Linked DNA regions of Homo sapiens: all the other regions are linked to region 1. Evidence: fine-mapped expression QTL. A gene starts in region 1. Each other region holds a variant in brackets. All regions are shown on one strand. Distances are between the middles of the regions. Region 1 holds the start of DNAJC13 (DnaJ heat shock protein family (Hsp40) member C13). Region 2 overlaps ACAD11 (acyl-CoA dehydrogenase family member 11). Region 3 overlaps DNAJC13 (DnaJ heat shock protein family (Hsp40) member C13). Region 4 overlaps DNAJC13 (DnaJ heat shock protein family (Hsp40) member C13).

Region 1 (7,873 bases):
CAGGATCCCCGCTCACCCCTGATGTTTTCTCTTAGTAATTTTCCATCCACTGACCCCCACACACTGTTCCTTGGAGATAAATGCATACTTGCCCGTGTCGTTTTCCGACCTGAGCCCCGTCTCTCTCCCTTACTGCAAGCCCCTGTTGCAGTGGCTCCTGTACCTATTGTAATGATCGTAAATAAACTGAATAAAATCTTTTTTGTGGGGAGCAGGGGGTACAGGGTCTTTCTCTGCTGCCCAGGCAGGAGTGCAGTGGCACAATTATAGCTCACTGTAACCTCGAACTCCTGGGCTCAAGAGATCCTCTCACCTCAGCCTCCTGAGTAACTAGCACTACAGGGGCATGCCCCCATGCCCAGATAATGCTTTTATTTTTATTATTTTGTAGCAATGGGGTCCCACTACATTGCATAGGCTGGTCTCAAACTCCTGGCCTCAAGTGATCCTCCTGACTTGGCCTCCCAAAGCCTTGGGATTACAGGTGTCAGCCATCATGCTCAGCCTATTACCAAGCTTTAACAAGTATCATTAAATAATACTTTTTTTTTTTTTGAGAGTTTCACTCTTGTTGCCCAGGCTGGAGTGCAGTGGCACCATCTCGGCTCACTGCAACCTCCCCCTCCCAGGTTCAAGTGATTCTCCTGCCTCAGCATCCCGAATAGCTGGGATTACAGGTATGCACCACCAGGCCCGCCTAATTTTTTTATATTTAGTAGAGACGGGGTTTCATCATGTTGGCCAAGCTGGTCTCAAACTCCTGACCTCAGGTGATCCACCCGCCTCAGCCTCCCAAAGTGCTGGGACTACAGGCGTGAGCCACCGTGCCCGGCCTAAATATTTTTTTCTTTTAACACGTGTAATCAATATAAAAATTGCTAATGCAACATTTTACATTTTTTTGTAACAATTTTAATTTTTATTCTGTGTTCAGTAGCCACATAGGGCTAGTGGCTACTGTACTGAAAACATAGTTCAAGCATTGTTGAGTGGTATGAGTTCTTAAGGATTTACTTTGGATCTGGGCATTGATATAATTAGGAAGGTCAATTTAGCAGCAATGGGAATTAGATAAGCAAGTGTTTGACATTCTTGTGGGCTCTCTAAAGTCTTAGATCACTCCAGCCTTGTATGCTAACTTTGGAGACTGATAAAGGCTATTGGTGCCTAAAAGGCTGTGAAATGTATTTTTTAAAAAGCTGTGAAATATTTTAAGTGTACATCACATAATTTAGATTGTAAATTTGATACATCTGCACTATGAAAGTGTCAGAAACGCTAGTGCAAACTTTAATTATGAATAAAAAGACAAATCCAGAAAAAGAAGTGTGCATTTGTCACTCTTAAAAAAGAGTTGGGTGGGGAAAGGATCCAACTGATTTAACCTAATAGGGAAAGAAGAGACAAGTCCTACTCTCCCTGACTCTTGTATTTTGTTGTGGCATTTTAAGAAGGATCCAATTGTATGGATCCAATTAAAAGCAACCAGTGGTTGTGAAAAGGCTTGAAACTACATCTTGTGAACAATGGTTGAAAGTACTTTGAATATGGTTTCTTAAAATGAGTATCTGTAGCAGGGGTAGTTAGAAGGATATGCACGGGAGAGGGAGTGGGAAAGGGTGATAAGCTGTACTGATAAGTGCTTAAATGAATGTCACATACAAGAAGAAAAGAGCAAGAAACAAAGACAAAATAACTACTCATAGAAGAGAGTGCAAGTTGGCTGAATACAAGGAAAATGGCTTATAAAAATGCAATGGAAAAAGATGTCTTGTGAGGCAATTTTGCACTACAGAGGATGGGGACAATTCATGATGCCTAAGGCTCCTCTCAACACGAGAATTGATTTTATTGGTCTCAAATATTGAACAGAGAGGCAGTGTGGAGGTTGAACAGTTCACTGGCCTTGATGTTACAGGCAGGCCCTGTGTCTTAATCTTGGCTCAACCTTTAGGAGTTAGGTCACCTTTAGCAAGTCTCCTGGACTCTCTGGGTCTGCTGCTTCTCTAAAATCGAAATAATATACCCCACATTTACTTTTGGGATTACTGGAAGGCTTTGTAACCACATAAACACGTTTCTGTTTCCATGGGATAAGCCAATAAGGCCCCTTAACACAGCCCTCCTGTTTCTTTTTCCTCCTCCTCCCTTCCTACTCTATTTCGGGTTCTGTCTTCCCACACCCAGCTATTCCTAGTACCTTCCCTTACATGCACCTTATCTTACTGCTGCATTACAGAAAAGTCTAAGGATAAACACAAATAGTCTTTTTCCGCCCTAAGGTAGGGCAAAGGGTTAATAGAATCAAGAGGTAAAGTCTGTAAAAACCATTTTTCCACATTTTTTCATCCTGCAATCGCTGTCTATAAAATGAGCCAACTTGCTGAAGGGGACGCCAAGAAATCACAATTTCAGGACTGCCATGAAGAATGAGTATTCAACTCCTTATCAGAGACCTTTAACCCTTATACAATAATGTATCCATGCAGGTCACCCTACACTGCCTCTACTCTGAAGTCTGCAGCAGAATCACTATTTTTTTTTTAATCACTAATTTTTAAACTGTGGTCTTTACGGCTCAGATCTGGGAGTGGACATTGACCTTTCTTATTTAAACCATTGCCCACAGATAACACATAATTTCTAGCCGAATCCTTTAGTCCCAATATCCCCTCTTTTCACTGCCCTGACTTCCCTCTCAGGTGAGGTTCAGGAAGATGGTTATCTAGAGGGCACAGGTTCTGGGTTCAAATTACTTGGGTGCAAACATGAAATCCACTACTCTGAGGCTGGGCCTCAACTTATCTGCAAAACGAGGATGATTCGTATCTCAGAGAGTTGAAGATTAAGCAGCTTTAAGTAAACTTCTAAACACTTGATCCGGACACAATAAATGGGGCTACCAGAACTATCTTTCCAGCATTCCCACCTGCAAATGCCTTAGGCGTCTCTGAGAATTTGGTCTCTGAGACCTTCCAGAGCATCCATAACTTAAACCCTGCTCTGCTGTCGTTCAGGACGTCTCAATAGTAAATGAACCTGCTGGCTCCCAATCCAGCCAAACCAGGAGATAGGCTGAGGCTTCAGACTGCCTCGCAGATGCTCCATGGCACTTGACGGCAAGAGCTAAAAAGAGGTGATTTAAAACAAGATTTCCTCGGACTTAAAGCTTAAGTACCGGGTTGCGACCCTACTCTCCGCAGGACATAAGCGGAGGGGCGCGGCCCTAAGGCACACGCCGGAGGGGCGTGGTCATGGGCACCCGCCGGAGGGGCGTGGTCATGGGCACCCGCGCGCGCCCAGGGGCGTGTCCTTTTCAGCACCCACCGAGGCGCCAGCCCCCTGACGCGCTGCGTGGAATCCAAATCCCACGGCCGGTGTCGTTACTCTGCGCATGTGTAGCTGCTGGGGGCTGGCCGGAGGAAAGCAGAATTTCAGGGAAAGAACGATCGGGACGGGGAGGACGGGGAGGGCGGGGCAGAAGACGGAAGAGTTGAAATCAGCTGACTGGGTCTCGTGACAGCCTGGGCGGTGGCGACGCAGGCGTATTAGAGCGCGCTCGCTCAAAGCCTGAGCGAAGATGGCGGCCTCCAGAGTGAAACTCTGAGAGGCAGAGGGAGGAGGCGGAGGGGGCGGGGAGGCAGCGCCGCGGCGGCACCAGGAACCCGCGGCAGCGGAGCTGCAGGGCCCCGGCGGGGGAAAGGGGAAGTGGTGAGGGTGAGGAGGCCGGAGGGCGCCTCATCCCACTCTGGAAGCTGAGCCGGCGGCGGGAGGAGCTAGGGCTGGAGCCTCTCCAGCCTCCCGCGAAGGTAAAGCCGACTCCGGGCACTGGGCTCTGGGGCTCTGCCTTACTCCCTTCCCACGCCGTGGGGACTTTGTGGGGCTCAGGGCAGGGAAAACGGGGTGGTCTTGGCTGCTGCAGCCTGCAGCTGCTAAGGAAGCAGATTACCCTTCCCCCAGGCTGCTGGTCTGGTTCCTTTCGTTGGACGCCCCCCCGGCTTTGAGTGACATTAGCTCAGGGCGCTGCCCTGTCCAGCCCCACCCCTTTTTTTTGCTTGTTTTATACCTAGTACGCTCCTCCACTCGCCTTAACATATCCTTACCCCACAGGCTCTTCATTCCCTTGTGGGTTCCGCCCTCGGGATTCCCTTCCAGTCTCCTAGTCTGAGCACCCTTCCTGCTGGATGCCGGCAACTCTTGTTTCCTTGGGTCAGCGACCCTCCTTCCGAACAAGTCCTGCAGACTGACTTTCTTTGCTTTGTTTCGTTTTGTTAGGAAATGAGCATCCGCGTCGTCTGTTCTCCAGTACTTTTTCTAAAATCATTTTCTCCCCTAAGGCTTTTCCTTCCTGCAAGGCAGCTTATTCACGTGGCCTTTCCTCCGCTGCTGTGATTTTATCTTTGAATGTGGCCTTTGGAGTGGGTAAAGTAGGACTTAGACGCTCAGTGAAGTGGCTGTTAATCACTTGATACTTAACTATGTTTAAGAGTGCCTTCCCTTAAATTTTCTCCTTTTGTAGCGTGTTCCGTTAACCACGTTTGTCTTAAGATTGTTTCCTGTGTCCGTTGCTTAGAGGGGGGAAAAAAGTAAAGATTTCACCCTAATGTGGCGGTGGTCTCCCAAAGTAATTATTTCTCATTTTCCCTCTGCTTTTCCCTTTTACGTTATTCTGATTTCCCTCAAAAAGGAGGTTCTGTACCTGATGCTGTTGCGTCCTCTATGAAGGGCTTTATAGTGTACAGTTATGTTGAGCCTTTTGTAATACAGTGTCTTGGGGAAAAAAGTAGAAGTTCAGAACCTGCCCCCAGTAATTCTTTCTTACTATATTTTCTTTCTCAGTTTATGGACTTGATAGGTTTCTAGGTTTGAAACTACTGCCTGCAGGGAAAATTACAGTGATAAGGTTTTATAATATATTACCAGTACTTTGAGTTTATGGGAGTATGAAACAGAATTTGCCTTAAAAAAATAAATTTATAGAAACCACTTGTCAGAAATTCGGTATCCAGAACACAGTTCTTTGATTTTTGGAAAGTACTTTATTGGCTTATCTATCATATAACGTAAAACCTTGTTCACATTTTGTGTAATGTGAAACGCTTTTTAAGCTACTATATCTCAGACTTGGCTTGTGCTGTTAGTATCACAATGCATTCAGGCAACACACGTCCTTGTGTAGAAATTATTACATTATACTCCTTGTTTGAAAACAGGAAGTAGAACATATTAAGGGAGGAAAAGAGGAGTCAGAGGATTATTAAGAAATAAGAATGTAAAGAACCTTAAGGCTAGAGTTCAGTTCATGGAAAATATCAGCATTTGTATTCCACTGAGAGGCAATGAATATTCCTCTTTTTCTAAAGTGGTAGTAATAAATAGTCTAAAATATATTAATGTTATATATTGTTAACAAGCTTAGTTGTAAACAAAATACTTAAGCTAAAAAATAAAATATTAATAAGTGAATGAATTGTTTGGAATAATTTAACTTTATCCACAAATAAATAGAAGATGGTTGCCTTGCCCAGGTGGACTGTAACAATACTGGCTTTATTAAATTTGTTAAAAGGTTGATAGTGGAGTCCGGTTCTCAATAGGTCCCAAATTAGGGTTGAAATTGAAAAGATGTGTTTTAACTAATTTGGCTTCATTCCTCAACCAGTTCTGTTTACACAGGTGAATATGAGGTTTCTGCTACACATACCTTTCCCCTGCTTCTGATTGAGGTACTTTAAATTAGTAATTGAAACAAGGCTGTGCAGATAAACTGCAGCACAAATTTGGTTGCTACAAATAGGTTTTGGCCTAAATGTTCACTGTAAAACATGGCAGTAGTTAAAGGGGAGTTATTAATATTTTGAAAGAGTTCCTTGAGTCAGTGTTTCTCAACTTTATTAGACCCAATAAAGGCTCCCTTTTTATAAAAAATAATTAGTAACACCTTCTTTGCTATCTTTAGTTTATAAATAATGTAACTACCTCTGGCTTTGGCCCTGAGACAAAAAAAGAAGCTTTGCTCTCACTTCTGCAACAAAAAAAGACCTACACTACAAATTCATGACTTTTTTGAAATCTATTAAAGAGCTGAGTCCACAGAGCAAAACCACTGGCTGAAAATTTGAGAGACAGTGCTTACAGAGAGTAGATGTCAATTTCTGTTTACCGTCTTCAGACACAACTGGACAAAAAGCATGATGAAAGCTGAATGCACAATCTTGCAAACTCTTATCCACAAACCTCCCTGGGTCTACTAGAAAAGACTGGAAAGAACCCTGGGTGAGTCTGCTGTGCAGATTGAGAGGGAGAGGAACAGCAACAGAACTTTTAAGAGGGTCAAGAAACTGCTGTGATTCTTCCCCTCTGCCTCTTCTATGGAAAAAAGCTTTAATCTCTGGGGAGAAGGGTATCTCTGTTGGCCCCATTGGTGAACATTCAGGGGGTAGATGAGAAGTGGGAGAGAATCTTATGCCTGGAGGAGGGGCCCTGAGCCCAAAACTGCAGTCGGGAGTGGTCAACAGAACCGAGAGTGCTGCCCTCCTGAGATTCAGGAACACAGTGTTTGACTTAGACTTAATCAGAACATCAGACTGTATCCCCCACCCCCAACCCCCTGCCACCAAGCTAAGAAGCTTTCAGTAACAAGTAACCCACAAAATACTACTAGGAAAGGAACAAGATTATGCAAAGAGGCACAACACAAAGAATCAAACAGGCATTGCTCTAGTAAACCATCGCCCACCAGAGAGACAAACTGTTCTGCAGATTCATGAAGGCTGTAATACACTGAGGATAACTATGGCAAAAACAAATCATAAACTAAGTCCAACTCCTAACCAGATTAACACAAACCCTTCACCAAAGGCCTCACAAAGAACAGGCGTGCTCATTTCCAGTCATAAAAATTACCTCAATCTCTACTCCTACACAACATGTCCAGCTTTTAACCAAAAATTATGAGGCCCATGAAAAAAACTCCCAAGAGAAAGAGCAGTCATCATTATACATTTTTTAAAAAGATAGGAGCTTAAAAAGAACTGTTTTGTACATGTTAAATACTATAATAATGACATTTTGCCTTGAAAAAGTTTGAGCAAACAATGCAGTGAGCATTGGATGGAGTTATAGTTTCTGAATTACTGTGAAGTAGTAGAAGGAAAAAAAGTTATAAGATGGAGTGGAAAATTAGTAACATATATGTGAATGTATGTGGTTCATTGACCACCTGAAGTGTGTGTGTGTATTTTGTGAATTCCTGCATGACTCAGTTGGGTACAATTTTCTGCGTTCACTTAGTGTTGGGACAGAATCACTATAAGCAAATGTGACATTTTCATTATGCTCAAATTGTTCAGTAATACACCAATCCTGTTAAAATTCACATGATCAAGAAAGCATTATAGCAGAATTGACTATATGCATTTCAATATGTAAATAGTTAAGTATGATTATACCAAAATACACAAAGGACGTGTCAGAGGCTTGTATCTTTACATGGAATCATTTTGAGATTTTTTTTGTGTGTGTGAGAGACAATCTTGCTCTGTCACCCAGGCTGGAGTGCAGTGGCACGATCTTGGCTCACTGCAACCTCTGCCTCAGCCTCCTGAGTAGCTGGGACTACAGGCGCTTGCCACCATGCTGGGCTGATTTTTTTTTTTTTCTGTATTTTTAGGAGACAGAGTTTCACCATGTTGCCCAGGCTGGTCTCGAACTCCTGACCTCAAGTGATCCACCCACCCAGGCCTCCCAAAGTGCTGGGATTACAGGTGTGAGCCACCATGCCTGGCCCATTTTGATTTTTGACAGAAATGTTGATGTCTACAGATTTGTCACATTGGTGACTCAAATACCACAATTGAGATTATTAGCATTG
Region 2 (7,873 bases), 140 kb after region 1:
CACTGCAACCTCCGCCTCCTGGGTTCAAACGATTCTCCTGCCTCAGCCTCCCGAGTAGCTGGGATTACAATATCACAGGATTGTTGGTAAACTAGAAACACTTAGCAATTCCTTTTCATGCTAGGTTTTTTCTTTCCTTAAATACAGGAGATGGACTACAGTCAACTTTTTCCTTCACCAAACAAGATATATAAAATCACTATTGTGAATGGAAAATAAATTTTGGGACCCCCAAATCACTAAGCCAAAAGGGAAAGTCAAGCTGAGACTTTTGCTTAGTGCAAACCTGCTTCCCATTCTATTCCTTAAAAAGATAGCTACTAAGACAAAAAAGCTATGTACCTCCCTCACAATTTGTCCACAGGAAAATTCCTTGTGGACAAAGGACAGACAGAATTCAAAGTCTTCCCTCTGCTCATTGAGATAAGTGCATATCTGATTGCTTACTTTGGAAAGGCTAACCAGAAACTCAAAAGAACGCAACCATTTGTTTCTTATCTATTTATAACCTGGAAGCCCCCTCCCCGCTTCAAGTTGTCCCACCTTTCCGGACTGAACCAATGTACATCTTACATATATTGATTGATATCTCATGTCCCCCTAAAATGTATAAAACCAAACTGTGCCCCAACCACCTTGGGCACATGTCGTCAGGACCTCCCGAGGCTGTGTCACAGGCATGTCCTTAACCTTGGCAAAAGACAAAACAAAACAAAACTTTCTAAATTGACTGAGACTTGTCTCAGGTATTTGGGGTTCACACTATGCTCCCTTAATTATCATAGTGGACAATTGTTTGGGGCTGCTCAGCATCCATCTCTATTTCTAATAATGTCCCAAGTCTTTTTCTCCCCACTGAGTGTGAGTTTGGTGAGAGGGTGACCTCTGAAACTGTGAGGACCAAGGGGCTACAGCTGAGTGGCCCAATACAGTAGCCACTAGCCACACATGACTACTGAGCACTGAAATCGGGCTAATGTGATTGAATTTTTTTAAAAAAATTATTTATTTTGAGAAAAAGTCTGGCTCTGTCACCCAGGCCAGAGTGCAGTGGCACTATCTCAGCTCACTGCAACCTCTGCCGCCTGGGCTCAGGTGATGCTCCCACTGCAGCCTCCTGAGTAGCTGGGACTATAGGCGTGCACAACCACACCCGGCTAATTTTTGTATTTTTTGTAGAGATGGGGTTTGGCCATGTTGCCCAGGCTGGTCTCAAATTCCTAGGCTCAGGTGATCCGCCCACCTCGGCCTCCCAAAGTGCCGGGATTATAGGCGTGAGCCACTGCACCTGGCCCTGAATTTTTCATTTAACTTTAAATGAATTAAATTTAAAAACTGAGTTTAGTTTTTTGAAAACTGTGAAGTATGTTTAGAACAAGTTGGGCATGTGAACCTACTTTTTTAACTGTACATTTTATGAAGCTTACTTATATACAGTTAACTTTTGGAAGATCAAGTATTTCCACTGAAACTTTAGCTTCCAAGTTGAAATGTGCTATAAAATATATTGGGATTTTGGGGAAAAAGTGTAAAATAGCTTACTGATAATTTTTCCTATATTGATTACATGTAGAAATGATAATATTTGGATATATTAGGTTAAATAAAATTAATTTCATGTGTTTTTAATGTGACACTGTAAAATTTTAAATTACATACATACCTTATATTTCTATTGGTAGCACTGGAAGCACTCTCCTCTTCCTGCACAGCACAGAGGGCAGGCCTGCAGACTGAGCTTTGTCAACCATGTGCACCTCAGAGCCAAAGCAAGGCAAGGGCAGAGAGATCTGGTGGACAAGGTCAGATGGAGATCACCAATGCAGGGGTGTCTCTCTCATCGGCCAGGTCAGGCTGCTCTGGTCCCAGCTGCAAAGACCTGCTTCCTTCTCTGCCTGTGTCTTGGCGGGATATTCCAGAATTCCGTAGTCTTCCCTTCCCACACTAATGCAACAGATTTCTTTTTGCTCACATTAGCCAGTCTTTTCCTAGTGTTTGCAGCCAAGAACGCTGACATAATCAAGACTTGTCAGGAAGCGAGGCTCTCTCTTCCCTGACCATCAATTCACTAGAATCCCAGGTGAACCTCGTTATTACTAAATAATCACCAGGGCTGGGGCTGAGGCAGCTGTAGCTATAGCAAGCTGCTCAGGTGATTCTGATGCTCAGCCAGGGTAAGAACCACTGCTTTAAGTTTTTTGTTTTTTGTTTTTTTTGAGACAGTCTCACTCTGTCACCCAGGCTAGAGTGCAGTGACGCAATCTCGGCTCACTGCAACCTCTGCCTCCTGGGTTCAAGTGATTCTCCTGCCTCAGTCTCCTGAGTAGCTGGGACTACAGGCGCCCGCCACTACACCGGCTAATTTTTGTATTTTTAGTAGAGACGGGGGTTTCGCCATGTTGGCTAGGCTGGTCTCAAACTCCTGACCTCAGGTGATCCACCCACTTTGGCCTCCCATAGTGCTGGGATTACAGGCATGAGCCACCGCACCCGGCCCTAAGTTTTCTTTTTAAGTGTCTGCATGGCAAGTGAGGGAACATGAGCCTATGCTACTACACTTCTCACATGGAGGTTAATCAAACATCCTGCGTTCCCTGCCCTTCTGCAGCTGGCATGCATTCACGCATTCAACAAATATTTATTGAGGACCTATTGTGCATGCTCCGGGCATTGCTCCAGCTTCTAGGGATGCGGCAGCGAGCAAAACAGACAAGAACCCTTCTCTGCTAAAACATACTTTCTAGCAGGGGGAGAGGAAGAGATAATATGCAAAAGAAAAGAGAAAAATACATAGTATGTCACACGATGAAAAGTTCTAAGAAGAAAACCAAAGCAGGGAAAAAGAGCGTTGTGTGTGTGTGTTGGGAGGGTATAGAAATTTAGATGGGATGGTTACAGAAGGAATCCCTGGGAGGTTACATTTGCAGGAAAGGAGCAAGCCTTGAGGACATGCAGTGGGGGGAGAGTTTTCTAGGCAAACAGAAAGGCAAGTGCAAAGACCCTGAAGTAGGAATATATCTGGGATACTGGAGGAACAGCAGAAGGCCAATGTGTTGTGTGGAGAGAGTAAGGAAACAGAGCAGTAGAAACTGAAGTCAGAGAGGTAAGGGTGCTGGAGGGAGGGGGTGTCTGCACCCACTTAAGAAAATGAGACAAAAGGCTCCTCATCGAGGTGATTAGCCATCAGATGAAGGAAGACTGGGGAAAATACCTTCTGGAGATCCTATCCAAGCAACTGCTCTCCATTTCACCTGTACTTATTTAGGGTGTCCTAGGAGTGATGCACCTCTCCAGGATAAACTGTTACACTTTACTTGGCCACATAATTTGGGGGTGAAGGTAAGGCAGAGAGAAACCCTTGTTTCACAGAGCTTATGCTAACTACACTCTCACACTAGAATGGGCGTGGGTTTTCTTCACAATAAACTCATAATCACCACAATGAGAAAGAGGTGCTGAAAAGAAAAAGAAATAAAAATATCACGGCAGGATCATAAATCCTAAGTGCTCTTTGTCTGTCTTGAATTAGGGAGGACACTTCCCAGAATCCTGCTTCTTTGGAAAATTGGAAAATTCCAACAATCACCAGAAGTGGTTTTGTTTCTTTTAGGCATCCTGACTTCCCTCTGTACCTAGAGCTGATCAC[A/G]GCCCTCCAGCTGATTAGACTAGATTAGACATCAGGAGAAAAAAATGAAATGCGTATTTCCCTGGATTGTTAAATACTCATTAAACACCTGTTCCATCAACTGACTTGCCCAAACTGCTGTGCACCCCCACTGCCAGGACACTGATGTCCTTTCTCAGGCTTAGGTTTTCTCCAGCTACCCATAACCCCTTCTTGTTGTCCAGCCTCTGTGTTGACCGGCTGGGGCTCAGGCTTTGGCTCTGTTCTGTTGGCAGACCTATACATGAATGCTTTGCTCACTCACCGCTTGCTGTGCTGCAAACCAGGGATCAGGAGAGCATCCATGCACACTCATTCATTCATTCATATGCTTTGTGAGTGGCTACTGGATGTAAGGCATGGTTCTAGGGGCCAAGGAGACACCAGTACACACACACAAAAGTGAGAGAAGTGAACAGAGGAGGGAAAAATGGGCCTTGCACTTGAGAAGGCAGACCACAAATAAACATGAAATATGTCAGGTGATAAGTGCTGTGGGAAAACAAAGGCAGATAAGCAGGTGGAGAATAACAATGCACGTGGTGCTAATTTTTTTCTTTTGAGATGGAGTCTCGCTCTGTCACCCATGCTGAAGTGCAGTGGTGCAATCTTGGCTCACTGCAACCTCTGCCTCCTGGGTTCAAGCGGTTCTCCTGCCTCAGCCTCCTGAGCAGCTAGGATTACAGGCATCCACCACCATGCCCAGCTAATTTTTGTATTTTTAGTAGAGACGGGGTTTCACCATGTTGGCCAGGCTGATCTCGAACTCCTAACCTCAGGTCATCCACCTGCCTCGGCCTCCCAAAGTGTGGGATTACAGGCATGAGCCACCACGCCCAGTCATGGTGCTAGTTTCAAGCAATGGTCAAGAAAGGACATTTTAATAATGTGCCTTTTGACCTAGACATCTGGAAAACCTCAGTGTAGATCCTTTCAGGCAGAGAAAACAGTCTGAACCACGGCCCAGAGGCATGGCTGTGCTCGCATGTTGGAACAGCAGCCAGAAGGCTATGCTGGAGCGAGTGAGCCAGGGGGATGAGATCAGAGAAGTGTCAGAGGACAAGATCAGATGGAACCTCGTCAGCCAAAGCAAGGACTCTGAATTTATTCTAGGTGAGATGGAAGCCACCGCAGCATTTGAGGTCATCCTGGCTGCTGTGAGAATAGATTAGAATTCCAGTTAAGAGACTACTGGAGTAATCCAGGCAAAATAAATGGTGGAGTAAGACATGTGACAGACAAACAGCAGCCTGTCAACAGGAGGTCTTCCCCCCTCCCCTTTCCTCTGCTCCTTGGGGAGGGATCATCTAGTGTCAGAGAAAGGGAGGAGCCAAGCGGGGCTGCCTGGCTTGACTGAAATAAGACATTTTTCATAGCAGACATTTTCATAAATACACTGCACTTTATATCCTTTATTTAAGAATGTTACGAATTTAAAGCCCTTAGAAAGCCTAAGTAAAAAATGCCTGCCTTCTGAACTTCCCCGACACTGTGTTGTAGCTTCACTCAAGATCAAGGAGAAAAGCAGTTTTGGGCAAGCCCTGCCCAATGTATCCATTAAAGTATCTAAACTGCTTTTCACCTACTTTATTTCCCTTGGACAAAATGTGTGCATGCCCATGACACCTAAGTGAACCACAGTTGTATGGAAACAGCTGGGGTGATCAGGACCCACCCTGAAGAAGCTTTTATCAATAACCACAGGTTGATGAGGAAATCAGTCCTCCATAATCCGCTGAACTTTCTGTTGTGTGTTCTTATAGTTAAAAAGGTCAGTTACCAGAGACCCTTAACTAGCTCATCCCCTGGACAATCATAGCTACCCCCTGTGCACCCTAAATGTTTTGCTGGAGAAAGACCATGACCAGTCTAGGGAGCCTCATGGTGTCTTCCCTATCCGGCAGTCTCAAGGCCCCCTCCTCGAGGCTCTGTCGCTGACCGCCTGGCAATCTTGGAGGGGTTTTCATGGGTAGAGCCCTGGCTGGTGAGCTCTCTCCTCCCCGCTCCCTCCCTGCCATCTGATTATTAGAAAGGGCAGTTTCTCTCTTTAAAACCATGTGGTTTCAAGCACATGGCAAACCTAGCAGACTGTCCCAGATGAACGGCTGCCTAGTGACTCCCAGTGACAGCCTAAGGAGACAGAACCCTAGAAATGGCCACAATGCTGAGGAGTTTACCGTTGGTCCATTCTCTCACCAGGACTGGGGCCCTGATCCTGAAACTGATCTTCTCACTTTATCCTTTGGAGACTTTTTTCCTTTTCAAAACAATCCTTGGTGTTCTTTTTAACATAATTTTATCTGACTAAATTCAGGGAAGGGAGAGAGGTAAGTATAGATCATATGGAGTGACTTGCCTTAGGGATGGCCAGATACATGACAATAGATTAACTAAAACAAATCAGCAACCAATCCAGCCAGCTTTCCTCAGACAGAGAAACAAATTACAAAATTGTAAGGACCAGATATAGCCTTTAATTCCTAATGTTCAAAAACAATCCTGTCTTCTAAATCACAACTTTTCGAGTTACAAGATTTATCCACTTCAAATAAGGATACCTTTTATAAAGTACTTTCTTGTGGTTTTACAGATTTCAAGGTGCTTCTACGTGGCTTCAGCAATTCTCACAACAAACCCTCAGTGGGTCAGGGTCTTCTAAGATTAAAATGTTAACACCAATGCGTGTGAAGTACAGTGAAGTACAGTGAGGTTAAGGCTCAGTGGCAAACGTTAAAGAGGCCCACACAACACACCAGGGATCAGAGCCAGGTCAAATTCTTGCTCCCCACCTCCACCCCACCTCAAGAAGAAATTTATTTTTTGTTTTTATTTTTAGAAACAGTCTCACTCGGTCACCCAGGCTGGAGGCCATGTCACGATCACAGCTTACTGTAACCTCAAACTCCTAGACTCAAGCAATCCTCCTGCCTCAGCCTCCCAAGTAGCTAGGACTACAAGCATGTGCCACCACACTTGTTTCATTTTTAAATTTTTTGTAGCAATGGGGGTCTCGCTATGTTGCCCAGGCTGGTCCTGAACTCCTGGCCTCAAGGAGGCACTAGATTGAATGACAACAGCTACAGCATTTCTTACTGAACTTAACCCTGTGTGACCCTTGAAATAATAAAACCCACTGATCAAAATAGATGCTATAATCTTTACCACAAATGAATAATTAACCCTGTGCTCAAACTGCTACAAAAATATGAGATTCAAATGTTGGAGCCAATGAAGTTTGTATAAAGGAGAGTTTCTGCCAGTGGGATGTGGCAGTGCCACCCTCCTTATATCTTGGCTGTCAGTCTTTTGGCTTGGTCCCGCAGCTCCATTGTTGCGATTGCTGAAAGATGAACTTCGTCAGGTCCATCTGCTAAACGCAAAACTCGGGTTATAGCATACCTGAAAAAGCAAAAGAATCAGGGAACACAGGGAGTTATGGAAGAGGAACATGATACTTTGACATCAGTCACTCTGATTGTCAACCAAGACTATATTAATTCTTAAATTCCACCAAGGTCAGGGTAAGAAAAAGGGTACCAGGAAAATAAGCTAAAGGGCTTCTGCAATGCCATCTTAAAGTTTCCAACTTGGGAAAGTTAAATGCCAAAGTACAGTGGAGTTCATCTCATTCTTGGTTTGCTACAGTTTACTACATGTTGCTAGAACTTAGAACAGGCAGTGACTGGTATGATACTATATATTTAGTTCTTTCTTAAGGTTTAAAATTGATGAAGGATGAGACTCTATCTCCATTGTGATAGAGAAGGTGACACTGTAATTATGTGTGGAGATGGACAGATGGGGAATGGAGAATGTTCCTTTCTGCCTCCCAGTCATCAGGATCTATATATTAGATAGTCACTGACATGTCCTGCTACAAATTCAGCGAAACCCCATGCTGTATCTACAGCCCAGGAATCCTCAGTGGGACCCCTCAGTGTAAAAATTAACATAATGGAATGAAATGATTATTGTAATAATAAGAGCAACTATTTCTTGGTGTTGAGCTCTATATTAATGTATATCACTTCATTTAGCCTTCAATTACACTGAAAATAAACATAAGCAATTAATGTCAAGGCATCTGTAGATTTTTTACCTCCACGCCTATCAAACGTAGATGATTCTTAAATGACATCTACTCACATGTTAGCCAGAGGGTAATCCTGGGAAACACCAGCACCTCCGCACACCTGGATGGCCCAGTCA
Region 3 (7,873 bases), 51 kb after region 1:
CAAATTGGCACAGGAATGAACAGTTTTAGTGGCGTTCACTTTCTGGTGACAAAGTATATTTTGGGTTTTGCAGTTAAATTTTGTTCTTCAGTAATGTAACATATATAAAACATATGTTTGTGGGTGGTTATTTGGATATTTCCCTCATAGGTTTCATGACCATTCTTATAGCTATGGTAATTGAATCCCCACCAAAGCACAGAAGGGTCACTGGTGGGTAAAATAGGGTTTCTACTTATGAGGAGCTTTCAGTTAAGGTGACAGGTGTTGAATGGGGATTAAAATTAGTAAATGACTAAACCATAGATTGAACTTGGATCTTAGATTTTTACTTTGAATTAAAATATACTTTTATAGCTTTTAAGTGAGATGAGTTGAATAATTTGCTATAAGTGGTTTAGGTCTTTGCCCAAACTCTAGAAGTGAAAATAATTTTCTCTCTGATCTTGCCAAAACGGTTATATTAGAACAGTTGTTGACTTCTGCTTGTTCAGAATTCCAAAAAATGCCAGGATGCCATTGTCACTATATTAGTAGGACTGGTTAAACAAATTAATTGTGTCATCAAATCTAATTGTTTTTGTTGTTTTTTTTCTTCCTTTAAGTGGGATAAAAACCTACTTTTTTCCTGTTCGGGTTTATTGAAAATGAGTGTATGTTTATTAGGAAAACATTTTAATTTTTAGAAAATTCCAAAATATTAGTAATATTTGAATTATAACTCTCCACATTAAATTTTTTAATAACTATTTTTAACATCGGAATGATTTTTTTACTGTAGCCGTATTTTTTATAATTATGTGATATTTTGTTCTTAAAAATTCCTTTCTGTTCTAGCTGAGATAAAGCAGCAAACCTTTCTCAACGTCTGCTTTTTTCAGACAGCTAAGTAGACATTTAGTGGGACTCTGGACAGCTGATAATGCAACTGCAACAAACTTGTTGAAACGCATTTTGGTAAGTCAGTTGAGAAATTAGGTTATATACTGCCTAATAAAATTTAATTGAACAAGTTATCTGTACTGTTAAAAGGGGATGGTTTGTTTTTTATTGAAAAGTTATTTATCATAGGAGTTACCGTAAAGTTTTACCCTCAATAGCTAAGCCACAGTATTAATTTATTTGGGTTTTTAAGGCTAAATTTTCTTTTTCACATTGTTTTGAAAATGGATTTTGTGTTTTTAGCCGCCAGGCTTGCTGGCATACTTGGAAAGCTCAGATCTCGTACCTGAGAAGGATGCTGATCGGATGCATGTTAGAGACAATGTGAAAATAGCAATGGTAAATATGACTGTCCCAAGTGTGCCTTTTTTAGGAGTAAGGGTACTGTTATATATATGTCTTTTTTTGAAACACGTTAAAAATTTTAGAAACAAAGAATTCATTGCATTGAATAGTATACTTAACTATTGATATCTTTATTGAGGTAAAATTTACATCCCATAATATTCATCTTTTTAAGGTATACAATTAAATAATTTGTGGTATATTTACAGAGTTGTGCAGCTATCACCACAAATTAATGTTATGAATAGTGGTCATTTTATTCTGTGTTTTGTTTCTCTAATTCAACTTATTGGTACGTTCTGGAGTACCAGTAAGTGTGTAAATATGGTATTTTGCACATATGAGATTGATAAATGTTGTTGGTAAAAACGGCCAACCATGAAAAAAGTTATAGGTAGGGTTTTTTTCCTTACAAGATCTATGTTAATTATAAGGTTGGGCCATCCATGGAAAAATTAAACATCTTTATGATACACTACTATAATAATTTCTTACGTGTATTCTTTTTCTGTCATCACTCCTTCTCTGTCTGCACCCAGCTCCCACTTGCATCTTGCCACCCCTCATAAAAGAATCATCTTGAAACCTAAGTAGAAAAGTTAGTTTCTTGGATAAAAAGTATAATTGTAGAAGTTTTCAGTTTGTTTCTTCACTGAACCATAACATCCAGCATTAACCTTATAAAATAGATAGAATGACTCAGCTTTACATAGAGTTTTAAAATAAATTTGCAAACAGGCATGTAATGGATTCCAACATTATTTTACAGGATCAGTATGGAAAATTTAATAAAGTTCCAGAGTGGCAAAGACTAGCTGGAAAAGCTGCTAAAGAAGTTGAAAAATTTGCCAAAGAAAAAGTGGATCTTGTATTGATGCACTGGAGGGATAGGATGGGCATTGCTCAAAAAGAGGTAAAAATAAAATTTGCTTCCAAATTCCTGGCACTTCTGTGTGTCCTAGTCTACTTTAGTTCCTGCTGTTCACAGAGATGGTATCGATACATTTCTTGCTGAATACCTGAAGCTTAAAAATGAATGGTACCTAATTTCTTTCTTTTTTATTTTATTTATTTATTTATTTTGAGACAGAGCCTTGCTCTGTTGCACAGGCTGGAGTGCAGTGGAGCGATCTCGTCTCACTGCAAGCTCCGCCTCCTGGGTTCACGCCATTCTCCTGCCTCAGCCTCCCGAGTAGCTGGGACTACAGGCACCCGCCACCACGCCCGGCTAATTTTTTGTATTTTTAGTAGAGATGGGGTTTCACCGTGTTAGCCAGGATGGTCTCAATCTCCTGACCTCGTGATCCGCCTGCCTCAGCCTCCCAAAGTGCTGGGATTACAGGCGTGAGCCACCGCACCCGGCCGAATGGTACCTAATTTCTAATTCATATTTTTGTATACATTTTCCTTAGTTCATAGTTTTATGAGTTGATGATTAGGTTTTTATTTTGGTATTTAATATAGAATTCCACTCTTAATTTTTCTTCCATTCCAGTTTTTGTTCTTTTTTATTCATATGTATTTATTTTCTTCCCTTCTTCTCTGGACTTTGTTTTGCACCTATAAAAATAAAGGTGCTCTTCCTGTTAGCCTTTTTATTCAGAACTAGCCAGACAAGTGTTTTGGAGATTAAGATTCACATTTTAAATTCAATTTATTGTGCGTACTTAAATTTTGTAATATTTGTTTCTCAAATCAAAGTTAGATCTAAAACAGTTTTAGTCTCATTCTTCAGCATGCAGTGTGTTCTACAGAACCTGATTCAGTAATGCATTCTTCTATCTATAATGGGTTTGGCAGTGGTTGAGTATGAATTGAGATGTCCTGTAGAAGCAATCTTGATCTCAGTTTTTGTTGATCACACATACATTGTTTCTCCTTAATCTTCTCCTTACTTATGGTAGCTATTGCCATATTCAAGGAAAATAACTTTAATATCTTTCTAAAACAAGTGGGTTTCTTATGGATTACCAGAATACGTAAGCATAGCAGAACAAATATTATAGTCTTGTGTATCTATCTGAAATTGGGATCAATGTTCAATTCTTTAGAGCTCCAGAATAATAGATTACTGCTAATTTATATAAGTGATATATTCAATATAAAGAATCATTAGGCTTTCAAGTGACTATGTAGTATAGTAAAGAGAATACTGAACTTTGAGTTGGTTAACTTCTGAGCCTAGTTTCATCACTTGTTAATCCAAGTTACGGTTTTTAGAACCTTACTTTCCTCTTTCATAAATCGGAATAACAATACCTCCCTTCTCTATCTTATAGGGTTTTTTTGATATACAAGCAAAATAATAGTAAAGGCACTATATACATATATGGTCAGGATAATACTGGTATAGCATTTGAACAGTTGAAAAATCTACAGATATGAATGATTTTCACAGTTATTAAAAATTACAAGCTCCTGGCTTCAGGTAGTTAAACCGATTTCTAAAATAACAGTTCTTTCAAGCTGTTGAATATAATTATCATACTGTAGATAAGTTTTTGGCATCAGACTTCATATGTAACATTTATCCAGCATAAGCATGAACACAAAGCTCTAGTCTTAGCTAAAACTATGGATAAAAATCTGCTATTTTAAAACAATTGAGAGGGAAAAGGATATTTTTAATATAAAAGTTTTACTGGTTTGTTGGTATCATTTACATGGGGTATTACTAAAGTTTTGAGCAAATAATGATGCCAGATAAATGTTGGTCAAGAAGATCTTTTGGTTAGCATCAATGGCTTATCCCCTTTCTGCGTGGGTACTATTTTTAACAGTAATTTCTTTAGGGAACAGCAAATAATCTTTGTGACTATTTTATTAATAGAAACACTAACATCAAAGTTTGGAATGATCTTATGCTGTAGTTAGAGTCTGAAAACTAATCATTGTCAAGATTAACTGGCGATTCTTGA[A/G]ACAATCTGCATTTCTTATATAGTCAATGTTTATGAAGTCAGTTCCATTTGCAGCTGATGCTCTGTGCTGGATTAGTAGTAACCTTTGGCTAATGTATAAGGTTGCTTTTTCTTTGTTATTTTCAGTTAAGGGATTTGTTTAGCTAGTTAGAGCTGTTAGCCTGAGTCTCCAATTCAGTCACTTAGTTTATGGAGAGCTTTTTGTCCTTTTTCTGTATAGCATTTACATTTTTATTACTCTGGACTGCCAGCCTTTTGTCCTGGCGGGGAGGAGGGATTGAAGAAAGTACTTCTTAATTAGAAAGTTTAGGAAAAGATTTGTCATTAAACCAAATTTTGAATTATTTATATATTTTATTCAAGCCACTTTGCATTAGTTTTCATGATAGTGCACAGAATTAAAATTTGTAGGAAACATTTTCTTATATAACTTTTAGGGTTTATATTTGAAATAATATCTTTTAAAATTTATTTTACCTTTTTTCTTTCTATGTCGTCTAGTCTGGGGTTTTTTTGCACTTTAATGAAATTACAGACTTCCGTGTTTTAATCTATACCACTTTCTACTTTTTGTTTCTATCACAATGAGGATTAGAGTTTTCATATCTGATGTATATACATGGGTTTCATTTGGAGCAGAGATTCTTTTTTTTTTTTTTTTTTTTTTTTTTTTTAATTTATTTTTTTATTGATAATTCTTGGGTGTTTCTCACAGAGGGGGATTTGGCAGGGTCATGGGACAATAGTGGAGGGAAGGTCAGCAGATAAACAAGTGAACAAAGGTCTCTGGTTTTCCTAGGCAGAGGACCCTGCGGCCTTCCGCAGTGTTTGTGTCCCTGATTACTTGAGATTAGGGATTGGTGATGACTCTTAACGAGCATGCTGTCTTCAAGCATCTGTTTAACAAAGCACATCTTGCACCGCCCTTAATCCATTTAACCCTGAGTGGACACAGCACATGTTTCAGAGAGCACAGGGTTGGGGGTAAGGTCACAGATCAACAGGATCCCAAGGCAGAGGAATTTTTCTTAGTGCAGAACAAAATGAAAAGTCTCCCATGTCTACTTCTTTCTACACAGACACGGCAACCATCCGATTTCTCAATCTTTTCCCCACCTTTCCTGCCTTTCTATTCCACAAAGCCGCCATTGTCATCCTGGCCCGTTCTCAATGAGCTGTTGGGCACACCTCCCAGACGGGGTGGTGGCCGGGCAGAGGGGCTCCTCACTTCCCAGTAGGGGCGGCCGGGCAGAGGCGCCCCTCACCTCCCGGACGGGGCGGCTGGCCGGGCGGGGGGGCTGACCCCCCCACCTCCCTCCCGGACGGGGCGGCTGGCCGGGCGGGGGGCCGACACCCCCACCTCCCTCCCGGACGGGGCGGCTGGCCGGGCAGAGGGGCTCCTCACTTCCCAGTAGGGGCGGCCGGGCAGAGGCGCCCCTCACCTCCCAGACGGGGCGGCTGGCCGGGCGGAGGGCTGACCCCCCCACCTCCCTCCTGGACAGGGCGGCTGGCCAGGCGGGGGGCTGATCCCCCCACCTCCCTCCCGGACAGGGCGGCCGGCCGGGCGGGGGGCTGACCCCCCCACCTCCCTCCCGGACGGGGCGGCTGGCCGGGCAGAGGGGCTCCTCACTTCCCAGTAGGGGCGGCCGGGCAGAGGCGCCCCTCACCTCCCGGACGGGGCGGCTGGCCGGGCGGAGGGCTGACCCCCCCACCTCCCTCCCGGACGGGGCGGCTGGCCAGGCGGGGGGCTTACCCCCCCACCTCCCTCCCGGACGGGGCGGCTGGCCGGGTGGGGGGGCTGACCCCCCCATCTCCCTCCTGGACGGGGTGGCTGGCCCGGCTGAGGGGCTCCTCACTTCCCAGTAGGGGCGGCCGGGCAGAGGCACCCCTCACCTCCCGGACGGGGCGGCTGGCCGGGCGGGGGGCTGACCCCCCCACCTCCCTCCCGGATGGCACGGCTGGCCGGTCGGGGGGGCTGACCCCCCACCTCCCTCCCGGACGGGGCGGCTGGCCGGGCGGGGGGTTGACCCCCCCCCACCTCCCTCCCGGACGGGGTGGCTGCCGGGCGGAGATGCTCCTCACTTCCCAGATGGGGTGGCTGCCGGGCGGAGAGGCTCCTCACTTCTCAGACGGGGCAGCTGCCAGGCGGAGGGGCTCCTCACTTCTCAGACGGGGTGGTTGCCAGGCAGAGGGTCTCCTCACTTCTCAGACGGGGCGGCCGGGCAGAGACGCTCCTCACCTCCCAGATGGGGTCTCGGCCGGGCAGAGGCACTCCTCACATCCCAGATGGGGCGGCAGGGCAGAGGCGCTCCCCACATCTCAGACGATGGGCGGCCGGGCAGAGACGCTCCTCACTTCCTAGATGTGATGGCGGCTGGGAAGAGGCGCTCCTCACTTCCTAGATGGGATGGCGGCCGGGCGGAGACGCTCCTCACTTTCCAGACTGGGCAGCCAGGCAGAGGGGCTCCTCACATCCCAGACGATGGGCGGCCAGGCAGAGACGGTCATCACTTCCCAGACGGGGTGGCGGCCGGGCAGAGGCTGCAATCTCGGCACTTTGGGAGGCCAAGGCAGGCGGCTGGGAGGTGTAGGTTGTAGTGAGCCGAGATCACGCCACTGCACTCCAGCCTGGGCACCATTGAGCACTGAGTGAACGAGACTCCGTCTGCAATCCCGGCACCTCGGGAGGCTGAGGTTGGCGGGATCACTCGCGGTTAGGGGCTGGAGACCGGCCCGGCCAACACAGCGAAACCCCGTCTCCACCAAAACCAGTCAGGCGTGGCGGCGCGTGCCTGCAATGGCAGGCACTCGGCAGGCTGAGGCAGGAGAATCAGGCAGGGAGGTTGCAGTGAGCCGAGATGGCAGCAGTACAGTCCAGCTTCGGCTCCGCATGAGAGGGAGACCGTGGGGAGAGGGAGACAGAGGGAGAGGGCTGGAGCAGAGATTCTTAACCTCTGGTCCATGTACAGACTTTAAGAATTCTTGAAATCTTCTCTTCCAGTTGCAGCCTTAAGTATGTGCCTATCTCTGAAACAGGGGCCATAGCTTTCTTTGAATTCTCAAAGGGTTTATGACTGCCTAAAATTTGAGTCACAGGCTTAGAGAAGCAGGTGCACCTATTTTAGTCTTAAAGTAAAGATAATTTTGTATTGATGTGTAATAGATATAATTTAGCAGATCTAGGCTCATTCTCTTTTTATTTTCTTTAACTTTTTTTCCTTTTTACGATTAAATTCAGGACAAAAACAATATGGTGAGTGTAAGTTCCTGCTACGTGTGTGAAATGCATTAAGCTGCCTGGCATGTGGAGTCATCTTTGATATTCTCTGTTTAATAAATTCAAGTCTTAACTTCACATGTGTTTGAATGTAGACACATTTCTTCTCCATTAGCTATTTCAATTTGTACTTGCTCCTCTTGGCTTTGGTAGCACTTTAACAACCTGTAATCTTTTGCATTTATTGTTGTCCCAAGGCTTTTGTGTTAACTGCATGTAAATGTTTGAAACAAGTCACTGTTTTTGACTATTTTAAATTTTATTAATCACTGTAAACTTTAACAAAATTTGGTGTTGAAACAGCTTTAGGCTACATGGAAAATACTTGAGTAACTATAGAAATATATGCTGTCAAATTATTATATGTGATATAATTTAATATCCTGTATTT
Region 4 (7,873 bases), 82 kb after region 1:
GATTTCTGTTTTCACTGGAAACAGAACAGAGACAGTATTCCTGAATGAGAAGACATGACATTGAAAAGATCTGACTTTCATATGTTTAAGGTATTTTTAATAAAAACCCTAGGGGTTTTTTTGAGAACCTGATACTAATTCAAATTCATCTAGGAGAAAAAATAAGAATGGAAGAAATTTTGAAATCTTTTAAATTGCTAGACTTATCAGATATTAAAACACTTCATAAAGCTACAATAGTAAAACAATATGATACTGACACAAGAATCTACATATAGATAACTGAACATACAGTGTAACAGTTTAAGAGCATGGAGTTAGGAGTACCTCTTAGCTCTGCCACCAGTTGATTTTGTGTCCTTAACCAGGTTACTATCTCTAAGTTGCAGCATCCTCATGTAAAAAATGAGGATGATAATGGTACACACTTTACATGGCTGTTTGAGGATTAAGTGAGATTATGGCATTTAGCACAGTGCTTAATAAACAGTAGCTCATAATTTTTGTTATATAGACGCAAACTCTCTCTAGTATGTATGAGTTTAACATGATGTATTTAAGGATACATTTAATATTCTTATTTGAAGAATTTTCAGTAAATGGTATTGAGATCATTAGACAACTATTTGAAAAAAAAATTTCACCTTAACAGTATACCAGCTAGATTACAGTTGGAATGAATACCTTAATATAAACAATAAAATAATAGCTAAAGTTACTGATAAAATGCAAACCATATGTCTTGTTTAAGTTGAATTTTGCGACATTCCAAATTAACGTTAAATTATCTTCTGTTACATACAGGACATGTTTGAAAAAGTAAATAAAGCATATGAATTTTTATGTACCAAATCAGCAAAAATAGTGGATGGGCCAGATCCAGAGAATATAATTTTAATTCTAAAAACACAGAGCATCCTCTTCAACCGTCATAAAGAAGGTAAGATGTCTGTTCTCAGATTTTAATTTATCCTCCAGCTAACCTTATCACAGCTAACCCTATACCATATTACCTGTTTCTACAGCATATTTAATAGATTTAGAATTATTGTTTAAAAGATTCTTGGAATTATGTTTTAAATAAAGGAAAATGTAGTTTTCTAAAGAAGGGCCCAAATATTTGTTTTATATCTTTCCCTTCATAACTATGTTTTTCAGTATTTTGCATTTCTGACATCTTCGCTCTGTGGAGTTACTTGGTTAGTTTTTGTGTTTAGCCATTTAGTAGCAACGTGTTAAATGAGACAGAATGGAATCTGGAATTTAAAGATCATTTCATGTTTTCTTAAATGGCATATGAAAGCCTATCATAACTTTAAAAGCCTCTGAAGGTTAAAAACACCAAGAGCATTCAGATTTTTTAAAAGCAGTAGAAACTTTTCAAATGATGATATACTTCTCATACGTTCTATTTCCTATTGTAGCTCTCAGGACCCTCTAGTCCTGTGGGACAGTTTGAAGAACACTGGTATAGATGAAATAGGTGTAATTTCAGATTACAGGATTATCCAGTGTTTGTGGGGCCATTTGCAGTAGCCCTAACAGTAGCAGTCAGAAAGCCAGGAGTATGTTCAAAACATCCCCCTTTGTTGGGGATGAGGGGTTAGGTTCAATATGGCAGATGCCCAATGGCTTGGGAACTGAACTTGACTTACAGCACAAAGTGGGAGAGCCATTTGCTATGGTATGTTGGGAGAGAAGGAAGAGGACTTTCAGGATTTGAGATAAGCATGGAGAGTGTTGGGTAACTAAAGACAAGAGATGGTGTTGCAGTTTAAGTATTGGAGGGGACAACCTGAGGATCTAGCAGTTGGATTATTAAAGAGAGCAGTGATTAGTTGATTTACTTTTACATGAGTTTAACAGAATACGTTTATAATACATTTTAGATATATGGCTTTTACTAATCAGAATGAGTTTGGAAACCTTTTTCAAAACCCTTGGTTGTCTTTTAATGCTGATAACTAAATTATTAGCCACAAGATACAGTTATGGCCCATCCTGGTTTCTCTGTTATCAAGGTCATCTTTAACTTTTCCCAAGAGGGGTTTATACCCAAGAAGCTCTGAGGTGGAGGTCCTGATCTGACAGGACTTAGTTATTCACTGTTCTTTCTTATTACGTATGTGTCACTTTTTTTTTTTTTAAAGGAAAATTAGGACCTGTTCCAGGGGGCCTTTTTTTTAAAAGCCAGTTTAGAAATGAGTTTTAAGGCAGATTATTGGTCAGCCTCAAAAGTCAAAAAGATTTATGCTGATTTCAATTGGAATTATAGAGATACTTTTAAAGTCACAGCCAATTAATTTGCATCTCTTTGCCTAATAGGTTAGATTGAAAAAAGAAGATGGAAAGAACAGAGTAATTAGGCATGTAGGTTTACTAGCTTTCACTTTTAAATTTGGTTATTAAAACATGGAATTAACTAAATGTAGTTTAAAAGTTAACTTTCTGTTTTGTACTTCTAGTAAGAAATTGTATTATTTTCAAATTTAAGAAAATACTGGTAAAACTTTAAGATAACTGGTAAAATAGATACCAGTTATCTTTAAGATAACTGGTAAAATAGATACTGGTAAAATAGATAAACAAGGGCACTTGTTATCCAGAAAACTTAATATAAAATATTCAGTGTCATGTAAATGTCTTCTCAGTCTTTTTTCTTTATAAAGATGTGCATATAATTGATATTAATAGAATTTCTGGTGCATTTGCTGTACCTTGCGTTCTGTGATGAGGTGAAAAGTTACAAAGATCAGCATAGAAAGTAGGTATTCTGCAAAGGATCAAAACTATACACCAAGTGCAGTTAATTTACCAGAAAATGTTATTTTTCTAGTGGAAACATTTTAGAAAAATCAACCAAGTTTACTAGAAAGGAAGGATCCAAGGGATTTTATAGTAGGTTTAATTTCTTTTTTTATCAACTGGCATTAGGAGGCATTTAAGATGTTAAGATAAAATATTTTATCTTTTTTTTTACGTTTTATTTTATTTTATTTTTATTTTTTTTGAGACGGAGGCTTGCCCTGTCGCCCAGGCTGGAGTGCAGTGGTGCCATCTCCACTCACTGCAAGCTCCACCTCCCGGGTTCACACCTTTCTCCTGCCTCAGCCTCCCGAGTAGCTGGGACTACAGGTGCCTGCCACCACACCCGGCTAACTTTTTTGTGTTTTTAGTAGAGAAAGGGTTTCACTGTGTTAGCCAGGATGGTCTCAATCTCCTGACCTCGTGATCCACCCACCTTGGCCTCCCAAAGTGCTGGGATTACAGGCATGAGCCACCATGCCTGGCCCCATTTTTATTTTTTTAAGGCAACATATTCTTGAACATGGTATCAAAATTGAAACCACAACATAATCAATTTTGTTTTGTTTTTCTAACACTAACCATTGGTTATTTCAGATTTACAGCCTTATAAATATGCAGGATACCCCATGCTTATTCGGACTATAACAATGGAAACTTCAGATGACCTCCTTTTCTCAAAAGAATCACCATTGTTGCCTGCGGCTACAGAGCTAGCTTTCCATACTGTCAACTGTTCAGCCCTCAATGCTGAAGAGCTCAGAAGAGAGAATGGACTAGAGGTAATACGGAGTGACCTTTGTGCTTTTTAAGCCAGTTTACACACATTATATGACTCTTGGCAGTGAAGAATTCAGCAAGTACAAATGCAGATTCTTTAATTTATTTCAGCAGATAACACAATATTTTCCATATTCTTATACCAAATTAAAGGTAGAAATGGAGCTTTATTTCACAATGTGAGTTGGAAAGTATTGGGTTCAAAACCGATAATGGTAATATTGTTTACAAAGTAGCTTATTAGAAATGCTTAAAAGGAAACTTTTAGGAGTCCTTTGTTTACTATTT[A/AT]TTAACAAATGTTGATCAAACATTTATGTATCAAATATTTAACATTAAAGGGTTATTTATATTTTATTACTGCTAGAAAAGGCCTTTCAGACTTGAAGTCAAAATGGAGAGTTAATAGCTGACTTCTTCCTCTGCAGGTGTTACAAGAGGCATTTAGTCGCTGTGTGGCTGTCTTGACTCGTGCTAGTAAACCAAGTGACATGTCAGTACAGGTGAGGCTAAAACCTGTGGTTCCAAGAAAATTGCACTAGTTCAATGGTTCAGACTTTAACATATCTGAGAATCAACTGGAGGGCTCATTAAACTGTAGGTTGCTGAGCTCCACCCCACCCCAAGTTTCTGATTCAGTGAGTCTGGGGTGGTGGCCTGAGAGTATGTTTTTATAACAAGTTTCCAAGTGTCATTGATGCTGCTGGTCTGTGTATCACACTGTAAGAAACTGTACTAAAGCACTTGTGATCTGTTGGCTTACGTTTTCTTTCTTAGAGAATAGTTTATTGAACCCATATGTTTCCATTACCCAGCTTAATGCCATTCTTGTTTCACATATCTTCCATCCCTCACTCTCCTATCTCTAGTATTTTAATTGGCTTAACATTTAAGGTTGTAAGATAGGAAATTCATCAGGAGTTCATTAAGAGCTTTGTAGAGCGTGTCTTTCTATTTGACCTTTTGCTTATGCCAGCAAAATTCAGAATATAAAACGAGTACTGGCTGTTGAGTTCCATCCTCTATTTTGAAGTCCGTTGTGTAAACAGAATTGTGATATTCTGCTATGTTAATAAACTATACAAAATTACCTTAATCCAGAGGCCAGCAAACTTCTAAAATAAAGGTCCAGGGAGTAAATATATGAGTCTTTCAGGCTTCATACAGTCTCTGTTACATTTTCTTTTGTGACTTTTTTACAGCCCTTTAAAAATCTAAAAACCATTCTTAGCTCTTTGGCAGTACAAAGACCATGGTCAGTTTGGCCCATGGGTTGTAGTAGCTGTGGTTTGCCAACTACCCCAGCATTTATAGGAAATCTTAATGAGAAAGACTAGTGATCTAGTAAAGACATTCTGTTTAATTTTGGAACATTGTATATACCATTAAGCATTATTCACAAATTTCTGCTGGTTTGATTTCTATGTGTTAAATAAGGAATGCCTATGTGACTCTACTGGTTTTTTTGCTCTGTTGTGTTGTCTGCAGGTGTGTGGATACATAAGTAAATGCTACAGTGTGGCTGCTCAGTTTGAGGAATGCCGAGAGAAGATCACGGAAATGCCTAGCATCATCAAGGATCTCTGTCGGGTACTATATTTTGGCAAGGTAGGGTTAATCTTTAATGCTTTCTAGATACAGACAGCAAAGTGTCTTTTTGTCAACTAGCCAGTTCCTAATGTATAAGCACATTGTTTTCCCAAAGTTATTTGTAAGTAAAATTATTTGGATTTCTAAAAGCATTTTTCACAGAAGCCTTGCTGTAAATGGAGGCTTTGCTTCTAGGCTGGCCTACAAAGAAAAAGACTAAAGTGATACATCTAAAGGGAAGTGGGTTCCATCTGAACATTAGAATGAGTGGCAGGGAGAAAAGAGAAGCCTGTAATAAATAAGTCTTTTAAAAGCAAAAGGCCAGCCCGGTGTGGTGGCTCACGTCTGTAATCCTAGCACTTTGGCAAGCCGAGGTTGGCAGATCACTTGAGGTCAGGAGTTCAAGACCAGCCTGGCCAACACTGCAGAACCCTGTCTACAAAAAAATACAAAAATTAGCTGGGTATGATGGCATGCGCCTGTAATCCTAGGTATTCGGGAGGCTGAGTATTTGGCTGAAGAACAAGCAACTCCAGAAAATTCAACCATAAGGAAAAGTTTAGCTGGCATGCTGACACCCTATGTTTCTGTGGCTAGTGTGACTGAGATATATGCTTCAGAGGTAGCCTGTGCCACTACACTCCAGACTGGGCAAGAGAGTGAGACTCTGTCTCAAAAAAAAAAAAGAAAAAAAAACAGGGCCATGTAAAACCTGAAAACTAGAGAGTTCGGCACTGCTTGGTGGGAAAGGCTTTAGAGATCTGAGAACTTACTATTTCCTCCCAATCCAGACCTGCTGAGGAAGGTTGACTGTGGGTAGATGAGATAGATGACTGGGAGGGAGAGAGAAATGTCTTAAATAACTGGGCAGAGTGAGAATTGTCTTGAATAAAACAGGATCGAGATGCTGATCTAGTACTAAAGTATCAAGAAGTGAGGGAATTGATGAAAATATCTCCTCTACTATATCTACTTAATGTCCTTAGAAGTATTTGATTACAGAATAAAAAACTGACATAAATAAATCTTTTAACAACTGCACAAAATATGTCGTTACATTTAAGATCACTAGCGTGTAAGTTGCTATTGATGCCATGTCACTATTTTTAAAAATTAAAAATACAAGAAGTGAAACAGGAAACTATTCCCAAGTCTTCTGACATTAGCCTTAAAGGTAGTAATTCTGGTATCTCGTCATGAGGTCACTTTTAATTTTAGGCTTTAAAGGATGTAGGATTCAGATTTAAATTGGAATTGAAAATGTAAGAAGAGGTAAACATTTTACAAAATAACGTGGTTGGCTTGACATACATGCACAACCAGTTCCTCTTGGGAGCTTTTTTTTTTTTTTTTAACTCTGTAACAACTAATGCTCTCATTTTTATTCTCTCAGAGTATTCCCCGCGTAGCTGCTCTTGGGGTAGAATGTGTCAGTTCTTTTGCTGTGGATTTCTGGCTACAGACACACCTATTTCAGGCTGGAATTTTGTGGTATCTCCTTGGTTTTCTGTTTAATTATGACTACACACTAGAAGAGAGTGGCATTCAGAAAAGTGAAGAAACAAACCAGCAGGTAACTTTAACATTGCTTTAATATTGAATTTGAACCCAAACCTTAGGTTGGTGTTAAACTAATCCAAACCAAAGCTGCTATCCAGAGTCCCCAGAGATAAATTGTTTTTCAGGAAAATTAGGTTTTTTGCTTTTTAAACCTAATCACTTACTTACAAAACTTTTAGTTGTAATTGCTTATGCTTAAAGGATTCCAGGCAAGGGAATTTGCAATAGCATATACTGGACATAATTTAATAATTTCTTAATTACTCAGAGTCAACTTTATGATGGCAAAATTATGGTTGTGTAACACAGGACAATATAATGTTACCATCAGGCAGTTGAGGCTAGCTCCCCTAAACACTTGAGTACTTGTCTGATTTTTATAGATATTTTTCTGTCTCTTCTATGTGCTCTCATTTATTGCTCATATTGTAAATGTGTGCTTCTAGCAGGCAGGGCTGCCTACCTATCCCCTACTCCCCACATTACCACCAAATGTGCTTCTTCCAGTTGTCTGTGAGATATACTGCATTGGGTATAAGTTAGTACATAGATTCTCCTGGTCCTTCTTATAAATAAAAAACAAGCCCCAACACATAAACTTTCTGATGTTTACCTCAGTGGTAGGTACTCTTGTACCCTTTTGTTGGTTGACTTTTTACTCCTTAAATATGTTCCATATAGTGTGATTCTGTAAAATTATAGTATTACCTATGTAAGATAACAGATCTACTTTAACAACTTAATTTTTTTTATAACAGGAGGTAGCAAACAGCCTTGCCAAACTGAGTGTCCATGCTCTGAGTCGCCTTGGAGGGTATTTGGCTGAAGAACAAGCAACTCCAGAAAATCCAACCATAAGGAAAAGCTTAGCTGGCATGCTGACACCCTATGTTGCTAGAAAACTTGCTGTGGCTAGTGTGACTGAGGTATGTGCTTCACAGGTAGCCTGGGTTTTAATCAATAGTGCAAGATCCTTTAAGCAGTAAAGTAGTACAATAATATTGATCTAGGGAACCTAAAAATTAAGAACGTTCACATGTTTGTTCTCTCAAGCAAGAAATTCACTTTATAATGGATTGATGCTAATGATGTCAGTTCTACAAGTCCAGTTTTTGCAAGGGCAAATTAACTTTGTTTCTCA

What was found. PIP is the estimated chance that this variant, and not a neighbour inherited with it, causes the effect. A credible set is the group of variants that fine-mapping cannot tell apart.
Region 2: its variant is the best candidate, but not a certain one, in a credible set for the expression of DNAJC13 in coronary artery (GTEx, PIP 0.61).
Region 3: its variant is the best candidate, but not a certain one, in a credible set for the expression of DNAJC13 in blood mononuclear cells (TOPMed, PIP 0.60).
Region 4: its variant is the best candidate, but not a certain one, in a credible set for the expression of DNAJC13 in blood mononuclear cells (TOPMed, PIP 0.89).

Annotation. Positions count from the first base shown.
Region 1 is chr3:132,413,952-132,421,824 of GRCh38, forward strand. It overlaps DNAJC13 (DnaJ heat shock protein family (Hsp40) member C13), which reads left to right and starts at 3,551. Exons shown (of 56, transcript NM_015268.4): 1 at 3,551-3,809. RefSeq lists silencers at 3,241-3,340, 3,621-3,760 and enhancers at 3,791-3,940, 3,880-4,415.
Region 2 is chr3:132,552,023-132,559,895 of GRCh38, forward strand. ACAD11 (acyl-CoA dehydrogenase family member 11) reads right to left here. Exons shown (of 20, transcript NM_032169.5): 19 at 7,811-7,873; 20 at 6,119-7,063. The coding sequence ends at 6,949. NPHP3-ACAD11 (NPHP3-ACAD11 readthrough (NMD candidate)) reads right to left here. Exons shown (of 45, transcript NR_037804.1): 44 at 7,811-7,873; 45 at 6,116-7,063. It overlaps LOC124909436 (a long non-coding RNA gene), which reads left to right. Exons shown (of 2, transcript XR_007096094.1): 2 at 1-1,634. Among named protein-coding and RNA genes, the nearest start is that of ACKR4, 41 kb to the right of the region's middle. The variant A/G (reference allele first, on the strand shown) is at 3,647.
Region 3 is chr3:132,465,114-132,472,986 of GRCh38, forward strand. DNAJC13 (DnaJ heat shock protein family (Hsp40) member C13) reads left to right here. Exons shown (of 56, transcript NM_015268.4): 18 at 882-957; 19 at 1,186-1,281; 20 at 2,057-2,200. Among named protein-coding and RNA genes, the nearest start is that of DNAJC13, 52 kb to the left of the region's middle. RefSeq lists an enhancer at 6,926-7,453. The variant A/G (reference allele first, on the strand shown) is at 4,206.
Region 4 is chr3:132,495,724-132,503,596 of GRCh38, forward strand. DNAJC13 (DnaJ heat shock protein family (Hsp40) member C13) reads left to right here. Exons shown (of 56, transcript NM_015268.4): 36 at 805-940; 37 at 3,403-3,587; 38 at 4,011-4,085; 39 at 5,071-5,190; 40 at 6,566-6,745; 41 at 7,491-7,658. Among named protein-coding and RNA genes, the nearest start is that of DNAJC13, 82 kb to the left of the region's middle. The variant A/AT (reference allele first, on the strand shown) is at 3,874.